Regions from separate parts of the Homo sapiens genome. Here regions 2, 3 and 4 are each linked to region 1. The links come from fine-mapping of genetic effects on gene expression. A gene starts in region 1. Each other region holds a variant in brackets. All regions are shown on one strand. Distances are from middle to middle. Region 1 holds the start of DAAM2 (dishevelled associated activator of morphogenesis 2). Region 2 overlaps DAAM2 (dishevelled associated activator of morphogenesis 2). Region 3 holds the start of LOC124901487 (a long non-coding RNA gene). Region 4 overlaps KIF6 (kinesin family member 6).

Region 1 (7,479 bases):
CTTAGAACTGGAGAGGGGAATGGCATTAACATTTTACTGAGCAGTTTGCTAGCTTCTTCCCTTATATCATTCCATTTCATTTTCAGAACAACCCTGGGGAATGAGAATAGTTATTGTTCTCATTTAACAGATAAAGAAGACTCAGAGAGGTTAGCAAGCTTGTGACCTGGTGGTGCCAGAACTCAAATCTCTGTCTGCTTGATTCTAAAGCTCTTCCTTGGAACCATAGGATGTACCACAAATAATTCAGCTCCTCTTTGGCCAGGATTGAAAGAGACATCAAACTGCCTAAAGTTCATTTTTTTTTTACAGGTTTTTTTTTTTTTTTTTTTTTTGGAGGGGGACCCCAGAAAGAAACCCATAACACCTATTAATAACCATAGTCTGATAAGTCTTGGCCAGTGCTAGCATAACGCTGCACAGGTTCCAAGAACAGGCACTTACTTCCTCCCCCCACAGCATCTTGACTGTGCAGTTTTAGAACCTCATAATGAAACAAAAAACAAACCAAAAAATGTGGAGAGAGTTGGAGAAATAGATGCTGCCAAGAGTGAGGAATTCACTGACCCCCGCTCTGGGCCATCTCAAGAGAAGTTGACCACTGGTTGAGCCTCTTAAAAGCTTAAAAGTCATCCCAGGCCATGGTTAAAGAGAGAGCTTGAACAAAACAAAAACAAATGTGATCTTCAAAATCTTAAATGTCAACTTGAAGGATAACTTACAAGCTTTGAGATGGGCCAAGAGGACCTGCAGCTGCTCTCTAACATCAGATGTTCCTTTGTTCCTTTGGAGTAGTCACTCCCTTGGATAATGTATCAATCAGGGTTCAGGGGGCAGCCTCCCACCCCATACCCACTGGAGATGTTTGCAATGACTAAAGCTTTCATTCTTTACAACCCATCAGATTCCCCCATTACTCTGACCTGAGCACCCTTGACAAGGAGTGGCTGCCTACCCGCTCTCTGACTCAGGCTTGTCCTTCAAGATCCAATTGGTCCTTGACCCTCCTGCCCTACCCCCACCTCCCTACCTTTCCCCTCCCCACCATACTTATACAACCTGCTCTTCTGTCCTTCTCCCTCCCTAAAGAGCACAAACACAAGAGTGATTTCTAGGCCAGACATCCAGGATCCCTGGTTTCTTCTCCCACACTTCAGGATAATGGACCAGGGATGCTCATGGAATATCTTCATTGGTCACCTTTTCTAGAGGAAGGAAGTAAGGATGATCAGAGCCCTAGAAACTCCACCCACTAGCCTTCAATCATGGAAAATATGTAGCTAGATTTGGGGAGAGGTTCTTTCCAAGCAATACTGGCTTGTGATGGCTGAAAAACTGAAAAATAAAAATACAGCACTCCCTTTATGAAGGGTCTTATAACATTCTGAGCTCTGTTCTTAGTTCTTGTGCATAAATGTTTTCATAATGACCTGGGGAGGGAAATACTATCCTTATTTTACAGATGAGGAAGCTGAAGCTCAGAAGGAATAAGTCATGTAGCCCAGGTTACTAATTCGTATTTAGGTCACAGTTCTCTCTCTCCAGGCAGCTGATCAGAAATCTGCACTCTTTCCATTGTTGTCGGGCTGCCTCTGAAGTCTAGGGCTGAATGACACAGGATCCTTGACAGAGTCTCTGGCTGTTGAGATCTAGAGGGTCATCCGCTATCAAAGCCAAGGATATCCTTCAACTTGTTCTTTCTGCCAGCTGTGTTTGCCCTCTGGACCTTCAAGGATGTCTTGGAATGCATCCCATCTACTTAATCTAATCTCAAAGATGACCAAAGAGCTGGCCAGAAGATTGAACTGATAGAATGAGCCATGAGAAGGCTTCAATGTCAGCCTAGGCATCCATGGCCTGGGAATTCATCCCGGCCATAGTGAAATGTCTCCTAGTACAAGCCCAGAAGCATCAGGACTCCACTGATCCCACATGCAGCACTCCCAGAAACCCCACATGTAGAAAGAGTTGAAAACCCAGTTCTTGCCCCTCACCTGTCCCTGAGGAGTTGTATGCTGGGATAAGAGTATTTCTGGGAATCCTGTTCCGAGGGGTCCCTTCTGTCCCTGGGTAGTCTTCTATGTTTAAATAATGGAAATGAATGAGAACATTTAAACTTGTTACTTCCATTGGCTCTAGTAAAATCAAATAAGAAAGCCTCATCTTTCATTATCTCTATGCTTTCTCTACTGCCTGTACTTACCCTTTATCTTCATTCTTTACACCTGGATCCAAGGCTCTTTAGTAATGGGGAGTTTAATCTGTTTTGCATCAAAAACTTTGGAGACAGTCGGGAAAGAAGACTGGGGAGAGAACATGTTCTCACAGCAAGCAGTAGTATTTCAACTTCCTCCACGCTCACCAAAAACAAAATCATTTACAGGCCTTCCTATTGGTCTTGCCTGCACAGCCTCCGCCTTCTTGAGCCCCTGACTCTCTAAGTTCTAATGCCCAGGAGAATGTTCTCTCCTCTTTTTGTCCTGATGGGGGCACGAGTATTCCCTCAGCATCCGAGGCGCTGGAGGAAAAGCTCTGAAAACTCAGCTGGGAGTTAGGAGCCAGAGTTTGCAACTACCAGGGAGCAAGACAATAATAGCACAGTTGTTTGCATAAAGGAAGAAATGGGGGTTAGATGGAGTTCCCAGCACAGATGAAGAAATAGACCATTTATCCTCCCATGTCTAAGGCCATGGCCATCACCACACAGTCATGTATGTGTAAAAACACATAGGCATGTGCATCTCATGGGGACCAGTCACTCCTGTTTACATGCACCCTTGTTTACATTGCCTATGGGATGATTTCCTCCTCCTTCATTACACTTCAGTTGACAACGTACTCCTGAAGTTAAATGAGTCTGTTTCTGACATTGCTGCCTGCTCCATCTTTTATGGAGCTTCCCTGGGGTTCAATTTATATAATTTCTAAAATCCTTCCTGAATCTTAACTTCCTGTGGGTCTGTTTTTACATCCAGATTTCCTCCCTGTCCCTTCATTTTCTCATTTTTCTAGGACAGAGGGAGAGTCCAGTAATCTTCCTCCCACCCAGACATTGTAGGTTGGCTCTACTGCAAAATACAAAACCAGAGACCTGGCTAGCTCAAAGCTGAAAATTCAGTCTGTCTGTGGTCACTCGTTTGTGGAACCCAGCTATTGACAGGCAGTGCCTGGCACTGTGCTACTCAGGGATGATGGATCGATACAGCCTCACTGCTGCTTTTTTCCCCTACTCTCCGTGGAGCACACTTTCCGCCCTAGGCCCTAGGGAAAATCCATCCCCCGCTTCAGCTGGCTTTGCAAAGAAACTCAGGAAACTAACACCAAACTCAGAAGGGGGAAAACACAAGACTTTGAACTTTTTAAAGATGGGAAGCTGCTTTCATTCCCACGTGGGCATCAAGGGAAAACCTATGGGGACTCTTTTCCGGAGAGGTGTGATTTTCCTCTAACCCTCCGAGAAACGTTCCAAATCCACTCCAAAACTGTGGAGAAGTGGCCGAGGCAGAGAGAGAAGAGTTAAATCAAGCCCAGATCTCAGCAATCTGTGTTCAATTTTGATAAAAATCTCCCTCTCCCCCACCGCCCCCCTTCCTCCACCCCACAGCTCAGACACGTCTCTTTATGTTAGGAGCTTGCATCTTGTTTGGGGCACCACACGCGGCACTCCTGGAGAACCTGGCACGTACCTCACCGTGGCCATGTGGCAGAACCAACCATCCCACTCCCAAGCTACGGCTGGACACAGGGCCACAGCGTCCTGGCCATCACCACCACCTCCCCCTCTTCCTTCTCATCCTCTTCACAAAATTACCTGCCGCCAGACCAAGTCCCTCATTCCCCGGTTAAGTCAGAGTCCCGACGCCTGGTAAAGTCAGGGCATGAGGTTGGTTTGCGACCGCAGGTGCTGAGAGCCCCAGAGTCCGGGGACCCCTTTCCTGAGATGCTCCTTCCCCCGCCCAGGGTCCCACTGCCACTGAGAACAAGAACCTTACGGCTGCCCTGCCCACTGGCCAGAGGCCAGGCCTGCAAGTGGGAGCTGGGGGCTTGTGAAGACTTCAGCCCAGCCAAGTGAAGGTTCAAGCCGAACCCGGAAAAGCCACCACCAAAAAGTTGTCAGTTTTGCGGGGTATCTTCTGTGTTTGTCCACTTGTGACAACCAGGGGTCAGGTTTCAAAGCCGCAAAAAACATTTTTAAAAAGTTTTCCAAAGACATTTCCTATGTCCAGATGTGCCAGTACAGACACACGCAATCACACTCATACACACACACAACTCACACACACACAGGCCCTGGGAGCCCACTCCGGGGTCGGCGGCTCCTGCAAACACTTTGGAGAAACAAAACCGCCAGCCTGCGGAGCTGCTGCCTCCCCAAGCCCCGCGGGGCATGCTAAAGAAAGCAGAGGGAGAGAAGTGTGGGAGCCCAGCGGAGAGGGCTCCCCGCGGCCCGGGCCCCAAGACGGGGAGCGCCAGGGCCGGCCGCACTTACTCCGAGGACCCCAGGGCGCCCGCGCTCCCGCAGCCCGAGGTACGGCGCCGCCGCCCGCGCTCCGCTCGCTGCTGCGTGCTCCGCGCTATCCCCGGGAAGCCGCGGCTGCCGCCCCTCCAGGCCCGGCCTCGCGCCCGTCCGCCCGCCCCGCTCTGACGTCAGGCGTCTTGGAGCGGGATATTTATGGCAAGGTTACTCTGAATTTTCCCTAGGTAGACTTCTGATTGCAGTTTCTTGGGATTTGTAATTTTCACACTTTCAGACCGAACGCAGGCGGGGGGAGAGCGCCACCGGCAGGGCGAGGCGTACAATGAGGGTAGCTGTTCCCCACTTTGGCAGGGAGCGTTCTCAGGGCCCCTTCTGTTTTGGAAACATGGAAGGGTCAAAGAGGCAAAAGTGGCCACCTGGGCAGCGGGTTTCTCCCCGGCTCCTCCTCTGGGCTACGGGCAAATGGCCTGGTCTGAGGCCGGCTCGGAGGTGAAGGTCCCGGTGCCAAGGAATCCCCTGTCCCTCCCCAAAGTGTCCCTGCACTGGACAGTGTGTCCCAAGGGGTGCTGGGCAAGACAGGAGCGAAATCAGGCACAACAGAACAGCTAATTAGGAGTCCTGGTCCACGCCCTAACAACTTTTCCATTTCTTTTTTGGGAGTGTATATATATTTTTTTAAGTTTATTTTTATTAAATTATGTTCCACACTCCCTGCCTCTGTATAGCTTTTCCAATTCAGTGCCAGTCAATTCATCTTACTTCATTGCTTGTATGCATAGTTTGAGCAGTTTACAATAGCTCTTATTCATACTTTTAAAATTTCCTTTTAGTTTTTTTTTTTCTTTTTTTTTTAAATGTGATTGTGGTCTGTCTCCTTGACTGAACTAGAGATTGCTTTGGTCAAGAGCAATTGTCCTCTCTGGGATTGGCAACACCCTCACGGGGAGTATTTGATCTTCTCTGTTTCCTATTTTCCCCAGCTCCCTCTGCAAGCAAATGGTGCCCCCACTGGGTGATGACCTGTATACAGTTTTCTGGGTGTTCAGTGGTTGTTCTGTGTTAGTGGTTGTCTGTTTCTCCACCTCACCAAAGGGGCTTAGGGAAATGGCTTGGTTTAAGGGCCACCCTTCCAGAGAAAAAAAGAGAATGTAATGCATGATCTTCCAGAGGAAAAAAAAAAAAAAAAGAGAATGTAATGTGTTATCCTTCATGGTTCCCAAGGATTGGAGAATGAAATGAACTTAAAATGATACACGTGAGATGCAAAATACTTATATGGTTAGACAACATAAGTGTTTAGGTATTCATCTCACCATGAATGGGAGGGGGCACGGATAATTGCAAATCATCATTAAAACACAACTATAGTGAACTTTCCATTAGCCCAAACTGGTAGAGGCGGGGTTGTGTTTTAACCACAGTTACAGTGCAGCAGGGACTCAAGGACTTGGAATGTGTTTACCTCTTTGGCAGCAGCTGGTTAGAGCTGATTGCCAGAAGGAGCTGTCTTAGGGCTGGGCCTCTCGGTAGAGGCCACGCTGTTTTGACCCAAGCCACCGAGGGCCCTGCAGCAGGGAGCTGCTGTTTGGTCACTGTGGGATTGCTCTCCCTGGCATAATACCCCACTTTTACCTCCTTCCATTCCCTCTCTCATATCAAGGCTCCACTGGCAAGGTGAGCTCTGTTCTTCAGCAGACCCTGCAAATAGGTTTCCAGAAGCCATTGACAAACCCATTCTCCCTTGCCTTTCTCAACTAAAGAAGTTAGAAATCTACAATATTCACCATCCCAGACTCCCTGGTAGCTCACAATTGCTATGAGACCAAGTTCTGACCAGTGAGATTGTAATACAGAAGACAGAGGATGCCTTCCACAAACTCTCTTTAAGAGAAGATCAGATTTGGCCAGGCGCGGTGGCTCACGCCTGTATTCCCAGCACTTTGGGAGACCGAGGCGGGCGGACCACGAGGTCAGGAGATCGAGACCATCCTGGCTAACACGGTTAAACCCCGTCTCCACTAAAAAATACAAAAAATTAGCCAGGCGTGGTGGTGGGCGCCTGTAGTCCCAGCTACTTCGGAGGCTGAGGCAGGAGAATGGCGTGAACCTAGGAGGCGGAGCTTGCAGTGAGCCGAGATTGCGCCACTGCACTCCAGCCTGGGCGACAGAGCGAGACTCCGTCTCAAAAAAATAAATAAATAAATAAATAAATAAATAAATAAATAAATAAATAAAAACACAAAAAAAGATAGGGCCAGAGACTCAGAGGTGGCAGGTTGGGGACATCATGAGGACAGAAACAGGGGAAGTGAGGCTGAGGAGCAAGCATTCTAGGTCTGGGAGAGGGGAGTCTCTCCATCCTTGCCCAAGTGTTTTGGAGGCAGGGTCTCTCTCTGTCACCTAGGCTGGAGTGCAGTGGCACGATGATAGCTCACTACAGCTTCGAACTCCTGGGCTCAAGGGATTTTCCCACCTCAGCCTTCCCAGTAGCTGGGACTACAGGTGCATGCCACTAGGCCCTGCTAACCTTTTTTTTTTTTTTTTTTTTTTTTTTTTTTGTAGCGATGTGGTCTTGCTATGTTTCCCAAGCTAATCTCAAATTCCTGGTCTCAAGCAATTCTCTCAACTCGAGAGGCCGAAGCGCTGGGATTACAGGTGTGAGCCATTGCGCCTGGCCCCCAAGCATTCTTAATTGGGTTCTATTGGGATGAGGAGCAAGTGAAATTCATAAAATACGTGGCTGTCAGTGCTGAGGAGCTGTTTTTGAGGTTGGCAAGCCCTGAAGAGTCCATGAAGTAGTAGGGCCCACTCGAAGATCATCTGATTCACTCCCTACCCCCAGCCCTATCACTCACAGGGTCCTAATGTGGGAGTCTCTCCTATTCTCAAGATTCCCAAGAAAGGGGTTTCATCCTTCTTCACCTGCATATTCTAGGAATGTTCCCGGAACATACAGTGAGGCCCTCTGTAGCACACTACTCATCTGGAAAATTGTACCTGCT
Region 2 (7,479 bases), 35 kb before region 1:
CCCTCACTGGGGAGCTCATCCTCTCCTTATTTGACACAAACTAGTCAAGCCCCACTTTCACCCAGGTTTAACTGCAACTGACCTGTCGGCCCCTCTACCCTTTCCTCACCAAGGGAGCTGCAGAGGAGTGAGCACCAGTGCACCTGCCTCCCTAGCGTACCTGTCCCCCCAGTACACCTGTTCCCCCAGTGCACCTACTCCCTCAGTACACCTGTCCCCGCAGTGTACCTGCGCCCCCAGTGCACCTGTCCCTCCAGTATACCTGCCTCCCCAGTGCACCTACCCCCCAGTGCACCTACCCCCCCAGTGCACCTACCCTCCAGTGCCCCGGCCCTCGCACTGCATCTGCCCCTTCAGTGCACCTGCCCCCCAGTGCACCTGCCCCCTCAGTACAACTGCCCCCTCGGTACACCTGCCTCCCCAGTGCACCTACCCCCCAGTGCTCTGGTCCCTGCACTGCACCTGCCCCCCCCCAGTGCACCTGCCCCCTCAGTACACCTGCCTCCCCAGTGCTCCTGTCCCCACAGTGCACCTGCCCCCTAGTGCACCTGTCCCTCAGCGTGCCTACCCCCCAGGCCACAGACCTGGACTGTTCAGGTGGGGTCTTACAAGCCTCTTGACCTTCCCACCCATTTACTGTCTTTGTGGCCCTGGCAGAGGCCACACAGAGGTTAAGAGCCAGAACTCAGGAGTTAGACTTCCTGGGTGCAAATCCTAGAGCTGCTTCTTATCTGCTGTGTCATCTTTGGCAAGTTACTTAACCTCCCTGTGCCTCAGTTTCCCCATGTGAAAATGAGAATAATAATAGTAATCTGCCTCAAAGATTGTGGGGATTAATTGTGGGGATTAATTTAGTGAGTCAGGTACAGTGATTAGGGTAGCACCAGGCACCTATTCAGCACTAAGTGTGAATAACTCACACCCTCTCAGTGAGGTCTTTCAAGGGCATCTGAAATAGCAGCCCCGCTCCCAGCACCTCCCATCTCCCTTCCCTTCATTTTCCACGTAGACTTACCACCACCTGACAGACTATACATCCCATGTATTCATTATCCCTCCCACAAGAATGTATATTCCATGGGGCATTTTTGTCTATCATTCATTGCTGTATCCGCAGTGACTAGAATTACTACCTGGTACATAATAGGCCCTTGTAATAAAGAAGGAATATATGAAACTTACTAACTGTGTAGACTTAGGCAAGTTACATAACTCCCCACATGCCTTAGTTTACTCATCTGAGAAATGGAGATGATGCCCACACCCTCACGTTGATGTGAAGATTAAATGAGGCAACATTTGTAAATATGCCCACTCCGGTCCTTGGTACATGGTCGACCTGAGAGGACCAGTTTCTGCCTGATGGAGGAAGGGCCTGAAATGGTTAATCCCTGACTCTCCTCCCCCATGCAAAGCTGGTCCGGACTGCAGGGCCACTGGCAGCTATCCAGGTGGAGGCTAAATGTCAGAGGTGTGTGCCTGCAGAGCTGCCCTGGTCCTGATGCAGTCTTGACCCAGGCAGCTGGAGCCCCTCGCCACCCCCTCCTGCTGCCTGGGCCTGGAGCATTTGGGAGTGCAGGAGCAGAGTGGTGGGAACCTCCGCAGGCCTGGGTCCCACGCCACATCCTGGCCTTGGGGGAGGTGGGCCCAAGGCCTGGACTTGCTTCCCAGCTATTCCCAGGCGGCCCTCTCTCCTGCTGGCCCAGCTGCACTGCCTGAGCCGGAGGGCCACAGGGGTAGGTCTGTCTGTCAGCATCACTTGTCCCCACTCACGATGAAGAAGACGCAGGCCTCAGCACAAGCACAGTCTGGACTCAGAGCCCCACTCTGTCAGCCCTGAAGCCCACCTGCCTCCCTCCCTGGGAGGGAGTGCGTGGAATGACAGTCACAGAGGACTCACCGGACCCCAGCGACTCCAGCCTGTGGCTTCCCAGATTTCTCCAATTTCTCGCAATGCCCCAGCTTTTCAGCAACTTCTCTGAGAGTCATGCCTCTCCATGACGGACCCAGAAAAAGATGAAAATAGATAGACACAGGCTTCAGTGTGAATGCTGAAGATGAAATAAATGCAGTCCAGCATTGCCCCATGGGCATCCACTCCACAACCATCTATGAACCCCCACTCTGGGCCAGACACTGTGCACTGTAGGATGCGGCAGTGAATAAAACACAGACCTGATTGTAAAAATCTCCCAGTCGGAAAGGGGGTACAAATGTGAGCAGGCCGGGGTAGTGGGCAGAAGTATCTTGGTGGAGCTGTACAGGGAATGATGAGAGTATGGATGAAGGGTCTCTAACTCAGCGTGGGGAAGGAGGGAGCATGAGAAATCTAGAAGGGTGGTACCAAGGTGCTTCTGGCCAGCAACAACTTGGGGGAGAACAGAGGAGCTAATAAATGGAGAAATGATATTTCCCACCAAGGGGCCGGCTCAGAACGGCTCTGGGGAGGGTGCCAGCTTCAACTCCCATCCTCCCAATCTTCAAGCACTTTTACCAGAAACTAAGCCCTCTGAGGGCAGGGACCAGGTTCAGTCTGCATCCCTAGAATGAGGACAGGCATATATGGCAGGCACTGAGTAGAAATGTCTGAGTGTGCCAATGAATAAACAAACCCCTGAAGGTAAGATCACTACTGACCCAGGGACATGTTGCTTTTTTGTTATCCCACAGACATTAACATAAATTTCTATTGCCCAATTTCCTCTTGGTAAGTGTAAGAACCCTCACAGGCTATAAACTCTCCAACTGGTGCCAAATGAGGTATCACTCAGCCTCCAACACAAGCCTCTTAAGAGGGAACCAACCATGGGGTTCTGTCCATCACCCTGAGTGCTGCCAGCCTCCCCATCGATGGTCACCACAGTCACACTCCTTTGGTACACCCTGGGAAAAGCCGCAAGAATCACACACCACTGAGGATAATGGCCAGAAAGTCACTGCCAATGTTTGTGGCTCAGTATTTACAGAAAAACAGGATCATTCTGTGCTTGCTACCCACAACCAGTCATAGGCGCATGTGCAGGCCCATCCACACACCCTGTGTGGAACACACAGCCCGCTCCCCAGGCCCCTGCCATCAACAAAAGTATACAAAGAAGAGATGCCAATTGGATTTATCTGTTTAAACAGCATCCCGTGAAGCTGGTCCCTGGGTGAATTATCCAAACAGTAACCATTCTTGCTTCTTTCTTAAAGAAAAACTGTAGAGAGCATAAATTCTCCTTGCATCTCTGCTATTCATTCATGCAGCCAATATTTAATAAGGACCTACTATGCGTTAGCCCCTGCTAGTGGAACTGTGCTATGGTTTGCATGTCTGTGTTCCCTCCAAAATGCATATGTTGAAACTTAATCTTTGTTGCAATAATACTAAGGGTGGGGCCTTTTGGGAAGTGATTAAGTCATGATGGCTCTACCTTCATGAATGGATTAGTGCATTATAAAAAGGCGGGAGGCAGAGGCGGGCAGATCACAAGGTCAGGAGATCAACACCATCCAGGCCAACATGGTGAAACCCCGTCTCTACCAAAAATACAAAAATTAGCCGGGCATGGTGGCACGCACCTGTAGTCCCAGCTACCCGGGAGGCTGAGGAAGGAGAATCACTTGAACCCGGGAGGCAGAGGCTGCAGTGAGCTGAGATCGCACCATTGCACTCCAGCCTGGCGACAGAGCAAGAATCCGTCTCAAAAAAAAAAAGACGGAGGGGGGTGGAGGGAATTAGCTTAGGCCCTTTTAGCCCTTCCATTCCTTCTGTCATGTAAGGACACAGTGTTCTTCCCCTCCAGAGGAAGGAAAGGAACACAGACATGCAAACTATAGCATAGTTCCACTGGCAAGGGCTAATGCATAGTAGGTCCTTATTAAATATTGGCTGCATGAATGAATAGCAAAAATGCAAGGAGTACCTATGCTCTTTACAGTTTTTCATTAAGAAGCAACAAAACACCACCTTAGGAGCAGAGGGCAGCCCTCACCAGACAACAACTCTGCTGGCACCTTGATCTTGCACTTCCCAAAGTCCAGAACCATGAGAAATGTTGTTTTGGTTTATAAATTACCCAGTGTGTGGAATATTGGCACAAATGGACTAAGACATACTAGAAATGCAAAACTGAACCAGTCAGGGCTTTGCATTCTGGAAGCTAATAGTCTAGCGAGAGTCAGACAGAACAGTGGTTTTCAAACATTGTGCTCAGTGCTTCATCAGGGACAGGCCTGTGGGAGCACAGGTGAGAGGGAACCCTACTACCTGAAATTGGTGGGGAGGAGGAGGCGTTAGAGAGACTTTGTAGGTGTGGTGATTTTTGGGCTGAGTCTCCAAGGACAGCGAGGCGTTCCCCAGGTATGAGCCTTCAGGTAGCAGGGAGGGCAGGAGTTAGAAGTGTGAGCGGCAGGGCAGGCAGAGCTTGGGCAGCTGGCAAGATGACCCAAGAAGTACTCCAGGGCTCAGACATGAAGGGACTATACCCCTTGAATTCTGAAACTGGGTTTG[T/C]GATTTTCCAGATTCCCCTTTGGTCCATTAAGAGAGTTCATTCTCAGACCAAGGGGGTCAAGGGGTATCACACTTCACACAAAGACAGAGACCCTGAAGAGTAATCCAGGCATGAGGACCCCAAGGAAAAGAGTCAGGGAGAATCCTCCAGCCACTGTTTCTGAAGCCCAGGCCCCTGCATCCTACCAGGCCCGGGGGCACCTCCATGAGCCCACACACACAGAGCCAAGGCGTGAGTGAGGGCCACCATTCCCTGGGGTGGTGAAGCACCATTCCACAAACCCAGACCCAATAATCAGACTCTGAAAAAGACTACCCCCGCCCCACTTCAGCTCCTGGATAGCTGTGCCTTCCCCTCTTGAGATGTCACACTCCCCACCTGTGTGCAAATGGACTCAACTCCTCCTTTCTCCGACATGATCTGCAGGACGCCCCTCATACAGCTGCTGGCATGCACAAGACGTTGAGAATGAAGGTACTACCATTTAAAGACCGCTTTACAGGCGAGAAACTGAGGCCCAAGAAGCAGGCTACTTGCCTCAGGACCCACAGCAAACTCATGCCACAGCCATGTCTAGAACCCAATTTTCGAATTCACAGCACAGAACTCTTCTCTCCCACTACAGAACAGTCGCAGACAAATTCTGCTTTGCTTCCTGGTTTCTCCTGAGTTTCTACTTAAGTGGAAACAACAACTACAAAAATGCAATATAAAAACAAAAATTAAAAATTCCAAAAATCTTAGCCAAGATTCATTCATGAATATTTCCCCTAAATATTGTGAGCCCTGCTAGGATCCAAGCTACACCGCCTCTCTCTTTAAATATTCTCAAATACTCCAGGAAACTGATTCCCAACTTCTCCTGATTTCCTCACCTCAGATTTTCTCTTTGAAGCTTGAAGGGTACTTAGAAACTTCTCTTTAAAAAGAGAAGGTGCTCCTGACAGTCATTCCAAGACATTTGGATTTGCCAAGTTGAAGTTACAGAAACCTGTGACTATGCATACTAATTATTATTATTTGCCTACCATTAGTATGCTTTTTCACATTTCACATCTGATTTTTTATGTACATTTTTCTTAATTTTTGTGTGCAAACAGTCCTAATATGAAGTGAAAAAAATCACTGGCAAAAGGAGAAAAGCAAACAAACTAGCCTGGTGTCCAGGGATTCAAGAATTTCAGGAGGATCGTGAGGCAAATTGGATATGTTCTCCAGGAAAGGGGAGCTATTGGGCATATCAGCTACACAACCGATCACCTGAGGATTCCACTGGAAATGAAAAAGAGAGAAAGAGAAGGAGTCGAGAGTCCCCCAAAACCCTAAGTGGCTTCTCCCCAGCTTTAGGACACCACAGGGATGCTCACCTTTTAAGAGACTTGCTTTCCTAGAATAGCCCCAGCCCCTCACTTTGGGATTGTGCTGTGAATGACAAAGTACTCATGGCAGGGAGCCCAGAGAGTTCCAGCAGGTAAGGAGAAGACCCTCGAAAGTAAAATAAAAAAAAAATCTGCTACTAACTGGCAGTTATTTGAACTAGTTATACCAGAGACCAGGAGCAGGCCGCACAATCGCTTCTTCCCCAGGGCTCTTCTCCTAAGCTGAGAAGATGCCAGCCGTGTGTTTATCATTTCTCCCCACTATCTTTTAAGGCAGCCACATCCCAAGCCAGCAGGCAGAAGCTGGACCAAGACACATGTCCAATGGGGAAGGAGGCCAGGTTCACTGCACTAGGCATGAAATACGCCTTATCTCATATTTGCCAACACACCTGCACCATGGGGACACATAAAATGTGAACCTCATTCCCATTTCCCATTAGAAATTAAGAGATTCACAAAGCCCAAATAATGTGTGCTGGGCCATTTAGCAATGATAGAGCAGGACTGGGTCTCCCTCCAATTCCATTCTACCCAAGAGGTACAAGGACCACTGCATGTAGTGTGCAGGCTGTGAACTGCAAGAGAATCCCACATCCAAGGAGATACATGAGCCCACCCTGCCTGCAGGGCTTGTACACCTGGGAAAGAGTACACTCAGTACACTCAGTACAGATATCGGGGTGCAGAAAGCCAGTCCCACCTATGCTCCCTTGACTCCCCCCATTCCCACCTGCCCAATCACAGCCACGGTGGGAGCAGGGGAAGGACATATCTTATCCCTGGTACGATGGAGAGGGTGTGTGATCAGGTGACAGGGTGATTCTGTGAGTGAATGCACAGCCAGGCTCAGGAAAGTGCCCCCCAACACACACACACTGGCAGAGCTGGGCTACTTTACAGGAGTATGCTTAACTATGTTTCCTTCAAGAAACAAAGGCCCCCCACCAACCCCCCGACCTTGTGTTTTGTTTTGTTTTGTTTTGTTTTGTTTTGTTTTGTTTTGTTTTAAACAGTCTTGCTCTGTCACCCAGCTGGAGTGCAGTGGCGCAATCTCAGTTCGCTGCAACCTCCACCTCCCGGGTTCAAGCATTATCCTGCCTCAGCCTCCTGAGTAGCTGAAACTACAGGCGCACACCACCATGCCTGGCTAATTTTTGTATTTTTAGTAGAGAGAGCGTTTCCCCATGTCCGCCAGGCTGGTTTCAGACTCCTGACCTCAGGTGATCTTCCTGCCTTGGCCTCCCAAAGTGCTGAGATTACAGGCGTGAGCCACCGCACCCAGCCTGACAAAGACCCTTCTTAAATTCACATCCAGGCCCTGCATGGCTAAGCAGCCTCTCTGATCAGGCTCCTTCTTGGCAGCTGGCAGGTCAGCTACCTGGGCCCCTCTGAAGCCACCCCAGGTCACCTCTCATCATTCTCCTCCAGGAGTTAGACAGTTGGGATAACCTGGCTCTGGAGAGGAAGACTGGCAAGTCCCAAGAAAGTATTTGTGTCTCCCCCTGCTATTCTCATCCAGCTGGCCTTTCCCCATGGCCCTCACCCATGATAAATGCACCCTGGATGGGGAAAGAGGAACAGAAATTCCATGCTCTGGACCT
Region 3 (7,479 bases), 26 kb before region 1:
TTGAACCATTTCCTCTTGGGACACCCATACTGCACATCTCCCTTCCTGCAGTAGAATCTGTCGATGTAGCCTTTCTTAATCTTTGGGCCTTTGAAGCACACAGTGTAGAGCCCAGTTTGAGAAACAAAGCATTGAAAGTTAAAAACTATCATTTTAGGAAACCACTCGGTGCCAACTTGCACAGAAACACAAACCTGGGGACTAAAATCGCATGCCAATAGTAGGTTATATGGTGGTCATTCAGATGATTCAGAATAAATGCCTCCAATTTTTACAGTATTATTATTAAAATGAAAACAAAGAAACATTTCTCAAGGAAAAGCACATTCTCAAGCAGAGTCTCAGACCTTGGAGAAAACAATCACACAATGTTCCCAGGGGTCTCTGGGGCCCAGTGTGAAGGGCTCTGGCTGGGGGTGAGGACCCAGGCTATGGAGTTAGGCTGCCCTGGACCCTTCCCTGTCCCAGCTGTGTCCTGAGTGCCCTCTACAATGGCTGTCACACAGTAGGCCAGCAATTCAACTTTGTTGAACACACAAATGAATAAATGGTTAGACGACTTAAGAGGTTCATCCTGGCTTTGCCATTTACCAGCCCTGCATCTTTAAGGAAAGGTCCTTAATCTCTGAGCCTTAGTTTCTTAATCTTTGAAATCTACAAAATTAGTCACAAGTCAATAAACTACTGCAAGAATTAAAGGAGATGCAAAGCCTTTAGCAGAGTGATTGGTGCATTCAAGGTACAGAATAAATGGTAACTATTATTGTTACTTTTCAAAAATGGCTTTAATCTCACATCCAAAATATCTTTCCAGCTCTGCACACCTTCCCAATTCCACCATGCCATATTATATTTTGGTAAATCCCCAGCACAAAGCCTGGCACAAGTAGGAACACAGAAAACATCTGTTGAAGCATAATTTAGCAGAAAGTGTCTCTGATTTGGAAACCCTCGGGTGAGTGCCAGGGGCTGAGGCTTCTAGCATTTCCTGCTTCCTCCATGGGAGGCCACCTCTTTGTAACAGACCCCAGCCCTCCAAACTGTACCTGAGCATTCAAGGCCAGGAAGCTCACCTGTGTCCATGCCACAGGAAATGGGACGGGGGCATTTGCTCTGCAGAGGGTGGGGATGCTGGCTGAGCCCATCCCCCTGCTGCATAGACTTCTCCTCCCATTCCTTCTCACTCCAGCTCTGGGGAGCGTGGGCCTCCCCCCAGGCAGCGTTCCCAGGCTTCAGCAGTAACAGGCCCTCCATTCTTCCCTGCCCTTGGCAGACCTGCCTCCTCCCACTACGACACTGTCCGCTGCTGCTCATGGGCAGCTGCCTCAATCCAAGGAGACAACGCAGATTTCTTGGGGCCCAGGCCTGGTCTGTCCCCTGACCCTATAGGAAGAAGAGGAATTGGTCCAAGTCTCCTCCTGAGATACACTCACAGGGTCACTCATTTCACCCTCAGGCTGCAAATGTCACTGGTCTCTGGCATCTTCACAAACAGCACTCACTGACCACACTTTGTTTTTCCCAAATGAGGGAGAAATCTGACATCTGCCCCTCCCGGATCTTCACTCCTTGGGCCAGGCTCCAGCTATGTTCAGATGTCAACCCCCAGCTCCCTGCCTCAAGGTTGACAACCACCAGGATAAGGTGGGGGGCTATCCCCAAGTTCAAGACTCGCTACCCACTGGGGATCCCAGTCCCCACCTCTGTCTCCTCCTTCTCACATTTGCCCATCAGATACCACTGGCAAGAGTCACCAGAACTCAACCCAAAATCTGCAATCCACAATCCAAGGAAGAGGATGTAACGCGGCTTTCTTTCACTTACCAAGTTTATCCAGCTATTTTCCAACTTTCTTTTTAGGAATCCTGAGCTCAGTCCTCAAGAATTATCTTCTGATGTCCCAGAGCTGGGTGCTGGGAGCCCAGGGCCACAGCAGGGGGCTGCAGACAGGGAGTCCTTCTGTGGGCATGGATTCCTGGGGTGGGGTGTGCTTGATTTGAAGCAGTGCCCCCTCCTCTGGAGGCTTCAGTACTAAAATCCAGCCCAGGAGTGTCCCAACCACAGCCCAGCAAGGTATCTAGCAAGGGAGGCAGGGCCACTGTCAGGAGCAGAATGTGTGGCTCTCTTTCTTAAAGGGACAGCCTGCCCCAAGAGCCCGAGGTGGGTGGAAATGCTAGAAAGGAAGGAGCAAGGGAGGATAAGCTAGCATCCTCCAGGGAAAAACTCTGAACACACACCAGTCTGTGACTCGGCACTAGCCTCATCCTGTGGTATGACAAGCTTCTCCACTTTCCTGATGTAGAACATGGAGGCAGAAAGACCCTTCCCCAAGGGAACTCACCTACTTTCCTCTAGGGCTGAACTCACCCAGAGGGTGTTGCAATAACCCATAAGAAATATTAATTATTTGCTATGTACACAGCACTTTCCTAAGTGCTTTGCATGAAGAAAATGATTTAGTCCCAATAGGAACTTTAGGAGGTAGGTATTGTGATTATTATTCCCATTTTACAGATGAGGAAACTGAGGCCTGGAGATAGTAAATTGCCAAGGTCTTACAGGTAATATGTGAAAAAATTAGGATTTGAACAAAACTGATTCTACTGGAGCTCAACCACTCATCTTCTACCAACCTTGTCCAGAGGGTAAATTTCTTTTTTCATCTTTATAGTTTTTAGTATTTTCCACATTCTAAAATAGGCATTATTCTGTATACAGAGAAAAAAAAATAAAGATCCCACCTTCTATCTCTCACTCCAATATTTCAATCAAGACGAGACTAGAGCGAGAAGATAAATGTATTCTACGTGGAAGCTCTAAGAGGAAGGAGAGTAGCAAAATTAACAGGACAGTGCAGCAAGGCTATGATTAAATCTATTTGAGTTAAGTTTTGCCTATTATAGATCCACAGGCAGGTTTTAAATAAAATTAAAATAATAGCTTCTTCTTTCAGCCAAAAACTGAAATAAAAAGTTTTTTAAAACCTGGTAACTGAAAAATTCAGCGAAGTCCAGGCTCCTCATAGATTATCCAAGACCTTTCCTAATTTGATCACCAGCTCCCTCCGCAGCTTCCCCCACATGGTCCCACCCACCCCACCCAGCCACCAGGCCAGATTACCAGAGGTTTCCATAAGCCTCTCCAGCACGCTGCCACTCACTCAGGCTAGGATGCCCATTCCCTCCACCTGTGCAGTCTTTGCCATCTTTCCAGACCAGGTTAAACTGTCAGTGCTGCTATGGAGGCTTCCACCCCCACGAGCAGAGTGTTGAACATTAAAAACTCCTTCCTCTGTGCTCTCACAAGCTTTGCCC[G/A]TTGCTATGGACTGAATGTGTGTGTCCTCTCAAAATTCATAGGTTGAGGCAGAATTCCCTATCTGATGCTATGTGTAGGCGGGGCCTTCGGGATATGATTAGGTCATGAGGGTGGAGCTCCCCTGAACGGGATTCATGCCCTTATAAAAGAGACCCCAGAGAGCTGTCTCATCCCATCTGCCATGTGAGGACACAGTGAGAAGGCTGAACCACCAGACGTCAAATCTGCCAGTGCCTGGATCTTGACTTTCCGGCCTCCAGAACTGTGAGAAATAAGCGTTTGCTGTGTAAGTCACCCAATCTATGGTATTTTGTTAGAGCAGCTTGAACTAAGACATCATCCAAAGTCTATTGTTAGAGGTAGCATCACATTGTATGCTAATTAACTGAGCATCTTTTTTTCACTTTTCTGTCCCTAGCACCTAGCACTAAAATCTTGTGGAGTCAGGCAGCTCATGATAGTAATTCTTATTGTTTGAGAGTGTGTTTGAGAGTGTGTCATAAGTGTTTAGTTTTGTGGGCACTTCCTCATGAGTTACCTCATTTGAACTTCACAACAATGAATAGGCATTAGATGTGTCAAATGTTAGTACTGGAGGAGGTAAGTAGCATTTGAGGTCCTTGTGACTCTGCCCTTTGAAGACTAGGTTTGCCCAGATGGACCTGAAGGACTGGCCAGGCTCCCCAAGCCCATTTTCAGCTGGGCCAGACTCTACACCGTCCCTGCCTTCCACAGGCCTCCCTGTGCTCCAACCTAACATCCTCTTGTCCTCAGCTTCCCTCCAGCCAAACAGAAAGCCAGTGGGCATAGAGATGATGGTGATGCTCACCAGCTGGGGTGTAGCCTGCATTCTCTGTGAGTTAGTGCATGCAAAATGGCCAAAGCACTGATGAGAGGCCACATGCCACATTTTCAAATAAGAACCCAGAACAATTCTGCCAGTTTTGTGGAGGAAAACCCTGTTATACATCCCTGAGGCTGTACCCCCTGGCACTGGCATCACTGAAAAAGGGTGTGGAACAAAGGCACACAGAATGTCAGAGCCAGAAGGAACCTTAGAAATCACATTGCTCAACCCCACTCTAGACAAGGAAATGAGGGCCCACACTCAGGAGAGGCTTGTCAGAAACAGTGACTCAGTAGCAAAAAACACAGAGCGACAGCTGGCTCCTGAGCCCTTTCAGATGATTCCGATCCAAGCAAGAAAAAGGAACCTAAAGAATTTATACTAAAAGGAGGTCACAAAGGCCAAATTAATTGCAAGGCATACTTCAATTACACAGCACACAAATGGGCTTTAAATGCAACATCACACACAGAAAACATGTTATAAAGAAAACAATACAGAAGAATAACAGGACGATGTTCAGTAACAGTGTTCAAATTTAGTCACCCTGGAGGCCAGGCCATGCTACAACCCATGTTCTTCCATGACCTCTGCTACGAATGAATTGAGCAGGTAGAGCTAAGTCTAACACTATTTCTGCATTGTGTTAGTAGAATGCATTAACGTCAAAATACCACAGATTAATACTTTCTTTCATCCTCAGATAAAATAATTTATAGTTGTTCTAGTTGTTGGTGCTTAGTCAAATATTGTTGGTCCCCACCCCCGATTACACACAGAGGATGGTACTTCCTGGGTCCTTGTGTTGGGTGGAGTCATGTGGCTAACTTTGGCCCATTCGCTGAAAATATGAAGGGTTAATTTTATGTGTCAAGTTGGCCATGGGACCAGGTATTTGGTCAAATACCAGTATAAAGGTTACTGTGAAGTTTTTTTTTTTTTTTTTTTTTTTTAATTGAGATGCAGTTTCACTCTGTCACCCAGGCTGGAGTGCAGTGACGCCACCTCGGCTCGCTGCAGCCTCCACCTCCCAGCTTCAAGCGATTCTCCTGCCTCAGCCTCCCAAATAGCTAGGACTACAGGCGTGTGCTACCATGCCCGACTAATTTTTGTATTTTTAGTAGAGCTGGGAATTCACCATGCTGGCCAGACTCGTCTCAAACTCCTGACCTCAGGTGATCCACCCACCTCGGCCTCCCAAAGTGCTGGGATTACAGGCGTGAGCCACCATGCCCAGCCAGAATTTTTTCTTTTTTTAACATGAGATGAACACTTAAATCAGTAGACTCTGAGTAAAGCAGATTACCCTCCATAATGTGGGTAGGCCTCATTTGATCAGTTGGAGGCCTTCAGAGAAAATGACCGAGGTCCCCCAATGAAGGGAACTCTACCCCTAGACTGCCTTCAGTCTTGAGCTGCAACATCAGCTCTTTCCTGGGTCTCCAGCCTGCTGGCCTACCCTGCAGATTTTTGACTTGTCAGTCCCACAACCATGGGAGCCCATTCCTTAAAACAAATCCAGATATATGTAGAGAGAGATCCTATTGGTTCTGTTTCACTATAGAACACTGATGAACAGAAGCATCATTAGTGGTCTAGAGCTTTTAATTGTGAGGACCAGACTCCCTTTTCCTTTAGAACAGCAACTGCCAACATTGAAGACAGGGCCTGTTCTGCCAGCCTCAGTTCCTGAGGGACTAAAACAAGCAGAGACCCTCTGTTGATCCACTACCGACAGATAACATGAGTAAGAAATACACCTTTGTTGTTTTCAGTCACTGAAATTTGGAGATTGTGTGTTATTACGCATAATCTTTTACTGACTGAAGTGCTCATTGTTTATCTTAGATTTAAGACATTAGGGGGCAAGGAGAGAAACCCAGAAAAGTAATAGAATCATAAAAGGATTTTGATCCTGGCCTCCCAGAAAGACTCCCAGGCACATGGCCCTTCCTCCAGCTGCATAGTTTCCCTGTTGTGTATGTTGGGATCCTGGGAGTCTTAACCCAGAATCCAGCCACAGTTGTGTAAGTGCATCAAAGGTGCGATCTCACTGCTGAAACTTCCCTAGAAAATGTTCAGAGCTCTGCTGAGGAATCTGACCTGGGCCTAGGATGGGAAGCCCTCCAAAGAACAAAAGTTTCCACTACGGCAACAAGAATGTTAAACACGATTTTGAAAAACTTCTCAGCAAAAGAAATGTGATGATGAGTATTTATAAGCCAAAAACCAAAGGCCATTCCCTAGTTCCTGTGAGGTTTCCCGCCACACGGGGAGCGTTAACAGGACTAGAGACGGTACTGGAAACAGACCTGGATGTCCTTGGCTCCACTGCAGATGGGTTAAGTGTGGAGCCTTTGAGAAAAAGCAGTCACAAAGTGTTGATGATTCTCCTTGGAAATCAAGGGTGATCCAGAGGCTGCTGGGACTCCTCCATACCTTTCTTCTCAATGAATAAATCCAGGCCCCTGAACTTAAATACAGAGGTAAAGTGTGGGGTAGAATAAGATATAATGGACTTGAACTATTACAGGAACTATTTAGCTGAGACCAGCAGCTCTCAAAACTGGGGGTGGCTACCCATCACACCCCCTGCCCCCAGAGACATTTGGCAATGTCTGGAGAAGTTTTGTGGTTCTCGTAACTAGTAAATGTTACTGAGATCTACTGAGTAGAGGCTCGGGGTGTTAATAAGCCTCCTATATACAAAAGATAGCCCCCCCACAACCAAGAATTATGTGGCCTAGTATCAAGATTGAGAACCTGTGGCTGTGATCAAATCCCTAGTTATGAGGGTGTGAAGGTTTAGAACAAGAGCAGGAGAACATTTATAGAGCAATATGCCCCATTGCAAAAATAAATACATTGCAGTCAAACTGTGGGACCTCAGATAAGCAGTATCAGCATTACCTGTGAACATGTTAGAAATGCGCAGCCTTGGGCTCTGCCCCAGACTCCTGGATCAAATTCTTTCTCAAGTATTTACTAGAAAAAATACAACGTGTGATTCATATACCTATAGAGAAAAACCAAAACTATCACTAAAGCATCCTGAGAGGTAGCACAGTTCATGTCAGTAGGAAAAATAAATCTTCATTGCTACTCTTCTCCCTATGAGGGAGGAATCCAGCATGAGAATCAGGGTAGAAGGTCCATTCTTTAGAAGTTGTCTTTGGATTTGCAAAGTGAACTGAGGAGCAAAGTTGAGGAGTGGGGCTGGAGAGTAAAGACAGCTGAATTACTCAACATAATAAAGAGGGGGACCTGTTTGAGTGAGTTGCTTGTGAGCACCAAGGGAGAGAGGAGGAAGACCAAAT
Region 4 (7,479 bases), 86 kb after region 1:
ATTGTCTCTTTGCATACAGGGTTGTTGAAAAGATGTCCATGCCAATCTGATTCTTATTTCTTTTTAGACATACTTTTTTTTTTTTTTTTTTTTACTTTCCAGGTGTTTTTAGGATTTTTTTCTTTTTTTGTTTTTATGAAATTTGATATTAATGAGTCTAGGTAAGGATTTTTTTTTCATGTATTCTTATCTCTCAGTCAGCTATTTCAATCTGAAAACTCAGATTCAAGGGTCATCACATGGACCATTTCTTTGGTAATTAAAAAAAATTCTTTCTTTTTTTTTTAAAGTGATCTCATTTTTATTTATTTATTTATTATTTAATTTTTTAATTTTTAGTTTTTGAGACATAGTCTCACTCTTTTGCCCAGGCTGGAGTGCAGTGGCATGATCACAGCTCACTGCAGCCTTGATCTGCTGGACTTAAACGATCCTCCTGCCTCAAGGCCTCCCGAGTAGTTGAAATTACACATGCATGCTACCACACTCGGCTAATTTTTTGAATTTTTTATAGAGATGGGGTCTCAGACTGGTCTCAAACTCCTGGGCTCAGGCGATCCTCCCACCTCGGCCTCCTAAATAATTTTCTTACCTCTAACATATCTATTCTTTATTTCTGGACCTTGCAGTCCTATCCTTCAAATATTACAACTTCCCATTCATAGTTCTCCTCTCTTTGCCCTGTGGTTCTGAGTTCTGCAAGAATTTGTCAGCACAGACTTCCAGCATGGTAATTTGCTTTTCAGTGGTGAATTCTTCTTTATCCCTCTAAATTTTTTAATTTTTGCTATTATTTTTCATTTCTAGGAAATGAAAAAGTCTATTCTTGCTTGTGAATGTGGTATCCTCCCTTTCCCTCTGAAGATAATGATCTTTTGAAACACTGGGTTTTTTTTTTTTTCTGTCTTCTTTTTCTTTATGTGCATGTTCTTCTGATGAGTTTGGTGCCTCGCTTTCCTGGTGCAGATTTCCCTCAGATACTGGTGATTCTTAGAGGTGGGCTTATCCCTGTCATTTGAGAATGCGTTTGTCTGTTTGAGCATGCTGTTTCTGTTCACTGTGGCCTACCCATGTGTCTATGGGGAAGGGATGGCATGTGCTGAGGGCATGGTGTGTTTATTTGCTAGGCGTGAGGCCCTCTTTCCTCCAGGGTGCTAGGAGTATCTTACTGTCCCTAATCCAAGCTTCTCCTCTGCAGAAACATGTACTGCACCAGTGAATAGACAGTTGGGGGCAGATTCACATTTTCTTCTCATTCATCTCTGTAGGAGAGTGTTGTTAAGCAAATTGACTTATTTAAGAGCCTGGGGAGGGAATCACTTTTTTCATTGACTTTAAATATGCTGTATACAGGATGTTTATATTTTATGCAAATTGTATGACTTTGAAATGGTAAAACATAAAATACTGATAAAATAAAGTGTCATTTATGCACAATATTTAAAGTAATGTATCCCCATACATTGAAAATCAAATTTTTAAGAATTACATAATTTGGCAGGCCTTTGAATAGACACTATACCACTTCAGATATTAAACAGAAATGTCCGCTATTCCTAGTGAAGATTAGCCTTCAAGAACACATTCCCAACATAAAATCTGACCACTTTAAACTAGCCCTTTAAAGTTATTCTACTGGGTTAACACATGGTAACTTAATTCTGGTTACTGTATGCAATTAAGGCTAAATAAAACTAATCACATTTCTGTCCAAAATTCTGTAATTCAGGAATCTCACCAATTTAGACATCTTTTCTACTTCGTCCAAACCAGTGATATTATGTGCATGACTATGTAGCAGGGGTCCCCAAAGCCCCAGGCCATGCACCGGTACCAGTCTGTGGCCTGTTAGGAACTGGGCCACACAGTAGGAGGTGAGTGCTGGTGGAGGGAGCATTACTGCCTGAGCTCCACCTCCTGTCAGATCAGCTGCGGCATTAGATCCTCATAGGAGCACAAACCCTATTGTGAACTGTGCATGCGAGCAATCTAGGTTACACACTCCTTATGAGAATCTAACTAATGCCTGATGATCTGGGGCGGAACAGTTTCATCCCAAAACCATCCCTCCGACAACACACAATTATTTGGTGGAAAAATTGTCTTCCACAAAACCAGTCCCTGGTGCCAAAAATGGCAGGGACCAAAGCTGTATAGGACTGCATGTATGGGGAGAAATAGTAAAGCTTGAACTTTGTATTATTGGAAATAAAGTAAAATAATCTTTGTGGTTATTTATTATTTAGTACATTTCCACTAGGAAGTGCTTCATCATGATGCCTCTTCTAATCTCAGGTGTCTTTGAAATCTATTTGGGTTGATTAGTAACATTGTCAAAACTGCCTTTTGTCATCTGAATTTTGCTCATTAATTTCTGGATGAATTTTTTTATAAAGGTAAGATTTAAGAAGTCTACAAATGTCTATGGTATTGCAGTATACAAAAGAGCGTCTTGTTTTATTTGTTTTTTTTTTTTTATCTAGTGTTGTGCTTCTCAAACTGAAGTGCATCAATCTCTGGAATATGTGGTAGGCTATCAGAGAATACCTGAAGCTTCAAGCAAAAATAGTACATTATCCTTGAGTGCCCATTTCATTCAAAGACTTAGGGAGGAAAACTATGAAGTCTAGACATTTGTGAGGTCTTAGCACACATCTGCAAGTTTGCAGAATTCCAGTTTTCTAATAGAGCCAATCTATGTTTTACCTAAAAGCTTGGGGTGTAGGAAATTTACTTTATGTGCAGTGAGTAATTTTGCAAAAATTTGGAAATTCAATGTTTTGTAAGAGCATGATGGTTTGACCAAAATGAATAGAATGTGCACTGGCAGGAGGACTGGCTATGCTATGACACAGTCCCAGTAGCTGGTGCTGAACAGCTAAGGCACCTACACTACAATAAGGCCAATGAGGTTGGCTTTTGGAAAGCTATTAGTCATTATGAGCCACCACTGGTTAACCTTTGATTTCACCAGTGATGAACATTATCAGGAGCAGCCTTTCAATTTATAGTAAGAAGATTTCTCTTTTCCTTCACTCTCTTCTTACTGTAAAGGGACGCTACCCTCTCAGGTTTGGAGAAGGATGTGCTTGACAACTTTTGCACATGAGCTCTTGCTGGGTGGGAGGCCAAGGCTTGATGCAGGGGATTTTCTCATGGCAGGGGGCAGTACCACACTCTCAGTTGTGCCAAGGTCATTGCCCAGCAGGACTTTTGCCTGTTGCTCTTTAGGAAACAGGCTTTGCTGATAATGCCGTGGGTTGCCTAGCACACCCAGTTCTGCTAATCCAACCAGAGAAGAGATCCTGCTCTTTCAAGACAAGGAGGACAGAATAGGGAGAAAAAGGCTCACAAAAGAGGATTAAAAAAATCTTAGTTATTCACTTCTGTGTACTCATGGTTTTACCTTTTCTGGCTCAAAATATTTGGCATCAAGTCAAATAATCCAATTCTGGCCCTAGCCCTGTGACTAACTCCCTATGTGACTCTGAATCAGACATATCACTTCTGAATCAGTTATCCCTTCTGAGAAAGGGGATGCTAATAACACCAAGTTTACAAGGTTGTTTTAAAGATGAAAAGAAACAATGTGCTTTACAAGCGTCAGTGCCCTATTCAATGTAAGGGATGAAAAAATTAGAAATCTTTAATTTCTTTGCCACTCAAAAAACATGCTTAGTGACCTCTGGTTCCAGACCAAGATAGAGTAGACACACTTCTCTCTATTCCCCTTACTAAGTACAGCTAAAGACTCTGGACGTCATATACAAAGAAACATGACTCTGAAAGTTGAAGAGAAGATAGCCTAGCTAGAGACCTCAGGACCTGAGAAGTGACAGAATGGTGAATCCCCTTGGATTTTTCCCCTCATATATCTGCACAGAGCGGGGACACTTAACCACCCTGCCCAGATTGGATGCTGGAGAAACCAGACACCCAGAAACACCAGTGGGCTCAGACAAAATCCTCAAGAAGAGTCTACTGTCTCTAGCAAGAGGGCCAGGGGACTGGCAGCCTAGCAAGACAGAAAACTTGTAGATACTAGTTGCCTTACTCCGTCCAGATACCATGGAAAAACCCGTGACTCCACCCCTATGTGTTTTAAAGAGAAGGGGGCCCTAAGGGAAGTAAGGTTTCTACACTTCATTCAAACTGGTAAAATGTTAACACCAGTAGATTTCTATAGTGATAGAATAGTTCTGTATTTTGATGGCAGTGGTGATTGCTTAATTCTACACATGTGAGAAAA[C/T]GGCATAGAACTATACACATACATTCTACCAATGTCAATTTCCTGGTTTTGAAAATGTACTACAGTTATGCAATATGTAACCACTGGGGCAAATGGGGTCCAGAGAACTATTCTATACTCTCTTTATGACTTCCTGTAAATTTATCATTATTTCAAAATAAAGCAGTAAGAAAATCCTCAGTTATAAAAATTTTAGTGACATTTGTTCTGTGATATTCTTCTATTCTGTAAATTAGGCAATCTCAGTTATTGCACTGGAACTTCTCCCCCAGGGGATTCAATAAAGCTAATCCCATCTGAAATTCACAAAAACACCAGTGACATTTTGTTTTTTTTCCAAGTTTACAGGAAACGTTATTCACCACTGAATTGTACAAAAACTCATTGCCTGTTCCCTAAATCTGTTCAACTTCTGGCCACAGTTGCACTTTGCCAGATGCGTTGTTTATAAACATGTACCTGCACTTGGCTTTACTTGCTGCTATGCTGAATTTCCTGATGACATCACATTTCTGGCTTTTGTGACTTTACAATTATACTTAAATCTAAACTTTTAAGTGTGACAATTTTAAAATTACATTTTCAACTGAGAACATGGTCTTATGATTAAAAACAGGGACACTAACATATCAGCTTAAAGCCATGTAATTATACAAGATGATGACCTTGACAAGCTCCATCAAGGACTTAACAAGGAAGGGGATAATATTCCCATTCTACCTACAGCTGTTGAATGTGAATAAAACAACAGCAGTTGATGTAACCAGTATAGAATGTATTAAAGATGCACATTTCAAACACAGATTTTATTACTGTAGGTAAAAAGTGAGCCTAAATCTCGGTTTCTCTTCTTAAGAATAATTGATCAAGAAATTGCATACTATCATTTTTGCAATAATAACTACAAGTTATTCATAATTTTTGATAAAATACCTACAGAAAAAAAAGCATAAGAGTTGCATGAAGCTATTTGATTGTAAGAAGTAGGATTCCTTGACAGAATATTGTATATGCAAGGGGTGAAAATTACTGGGTCAGCGGTAAAATAAAAAGCGTTACTTGGATTAAAAAGTTAGTTGGGGGTTTCCTAAGATAATAAAAGAGACGAACCAGTGGATCGGAGATGCACTGATTCTGCAGCATGAAGAGACATCTCTTAAGCTGGTGCCACCAGAAGCAGATCCTGAGGCTAGGATTCCAGGGAAAGTAATTTGTTTGGGAGGTGAGTTCAGGAAGCACCAGGAGTGCAGTAGGGAAGTGAGAAAGCGAAGGAAAGGAAGGTAGGGTCCTTTAAGGAGCAGGTTACCACTGTAAGCAACTGGGACTTATTTCTACTGGTACCCACTGGGGAACTGTTAGGAACATGTCTCAGAGTTGTCCCACCCAAGGGGCAAAGAAGCCAGGGTACTTGACCACTCCTGCCCATTATTGGTTGAAGGCTGCTTCTGGGGTGTTCACATCATGGCACTTTGAGCCTCACCTGTGTGTGAATTAAACTTCATGGAGGCAAGGTCTCCTCTTTACCTTTGTTCACTGTAGTGTTCCTGGCTCCTAGAATAGTGTCAGGTGTCTATTAGATACTCTGAGTATTTGTTGAGGAAGAGAATTGGCAGATAGAGGATGATCCTTTAGCACCTGTCAGCCTTCCCTTTATTGCTTAAATGCACAGTGATGGGCTTTATTTCTTATAAAGTGAGTTTTATTTCTGTTTCCTTCCTGAAGTACTTTTTGGACAGAGATCTTTTCAATGACTAAAATCACGCTATATAGACACCTGCTCTTTTGTCTAGGCCAGTGGTTCTCAAAGTGTGGTCCGTAACCCAGCAGCATCAATGTTACCTGGGCACTTGTTAGAAATGCACATTCTCAGGCCTCACCCAGACCTATTGAATCAGAACTATCTGTAGTTTAACAAGCCCTCCAGGTGATTCTGATGCACACTAAGGTTTGAGATTCACTCACCTAGGCCTACAGCTAGGCTGTGGGGTGATGCAGATAGGGACAGATGATACCAGTGGTATTTGTTGTTAGTATCTTCCTCAGAGATCCAAGATGTGCTCTAAACGACTTTACAATTCCGAAATTGGTATTTGTTTGTTTATAATTTACCTCCCACTTATTTCTAAAATAAATTAAAGCACCTTATCCTAAAGCCAGAACCGGCTTCATATACATGAGACCTATGTCATAACACAGGGCCCCATGCTCAGAAGGGACCCACTCTTGATTTAAAGCACTATAGTTAACATTCACAGGAACGTTACAAGTTAAGAGAAATCTGAAACTATTTAGACTAAGTTAGGTGCTTAACAGATTATTTTCAGAAAGCTGAACATTTTCTCTAAAGATATAATTGGGGGAGACCATATAACACATTGACTAAGAGCAGGGACTTTGGAGCCATATAAGTGCAGTTCAGATCCCAACTTTAATACTTATTAGCTCTATGTCCTTGGGCAAGTTATTTCATCTTTCTCTGTTCTAGCTTTGCTTTTTTTTTTTTAAAGACGGAGTTTCTCTCTGTCACCCAGGCTGGAGTGCGGTGGCACGATCTTGGCTCACTGCAACCTCTGCCACCCAGCTTCAAGCAGTTCTCCTGCCTCAGTCTCCCAAGTAGCTGGGATTACAGGCATGTGCCACCCCACCCTGCTAATTTTGTATTTTTAGTAGAGACAGGGTTTTACCATGTTGGCCAAGCTAGTCTTGAACTCCTGACCTCAGGTGATCCACCTGCTTTGGCCTCCCAAAGTGCTGGGATTACAGGCATGAGCCAACGCGCCTGGCCTGAACCAGCTTTTTATCTTTAAGTGGGGAAAATGATACTGTAATATCTACCTCATTTGCCATGACAATCCAATGAGCTGTACGTGAAAATCACATGCCCCAGTATATGTGATTGCTCAGTAAGTACATAGTGCATGCTCAATGAGTATTAGCTATCATCCATTTTTGGCTCCCCACTGACATTTTTATAGAAAAGGATTTTCATCCCAATTCAGAATTTTACCAAGTTATGAATGTTTTTCTGTATGATTTTTTTCCCCCTTAACTCTTTTTAGATTTGGTTTCTCCCGAGGCACCAAAAAGTTTGCAATTTTATATCAGATCTTCAATTCAGGACTTGAGGATACACTTACAAATAAACCAAAGATATTTCTAGTTATTATTTCTCACCTTGATAGCCTCCAAAAGAGAGATATAGAAAGAACACAAGTAGGAAGCAAGGTGTT

Evidence for each region. PIP is the estimated chance that this variant, and not a neighbour inherited with it, causes the effect.
Region 2: its variant is fine-mapped to the expression of DAAM2 in whole blood (TOPMed, PIP above 0.99).
Region 3: its variant is fine-mapped to the expression of DAAM2 in whole blood (TOPMed, PIP above 0.99).
Region 4: its variant is fine-mapped to the expression of DAAM2 in whole blood (TOPMed, PIP above 0.99).

What each region holds. Positions count from the first base shown.
Region 1 is chr6:39,789,476-39,796,954 of GRCh38, reverse strand. DAAM2 (dishevelled associated activator of morphogenesis 2) reads right to left here and starts at 4,579. Exons shown (of 25, transcript NM_001201427.2): 1 at 4,490-4,579.
Region 2 is chr6:39,824,791-39,832,269 of GRCh38, reverse strand. The region is part of intron 1 of DAAM2 (dishevelled associated activator of morphogenesis 2); the gene reads right to left. Among named protein-coding and RNA genes, the nearest start is that of DAAM2, 36 kb to the right of the region's middle. The variant T/C (reference allele first, on the strand shown) is at 4,496.
Region 3 is chr6:39,815,819-39,823,297 of GRCh38, reverse strand. All of the region lies in intron 1 of DAAM2 (dishevelled associated activator of morphogenesis 2), which reads right to left. LOC124901487 (a long non-coding RNA gene) reads left to right here and starts at 3,487. Exons shown (of 2, transcript XR_007059917.1): 1 at 3,487-3,601. The variant G/A (reference allele first, on the strand shown) is at 3,315.
Region 4 is chr6:39,703,892-39,711,370 of GRCh38, reverse strand. All of the region lies in intron 3 of KIF6 (kinesin family member 6), which reads left to right. Among named protein-coding and RNA genes, the nearest start is that of KIF6, 18 kb to the left of the region's middle. The variant C/T (reference allele first, on the strand shown) is at 4,250.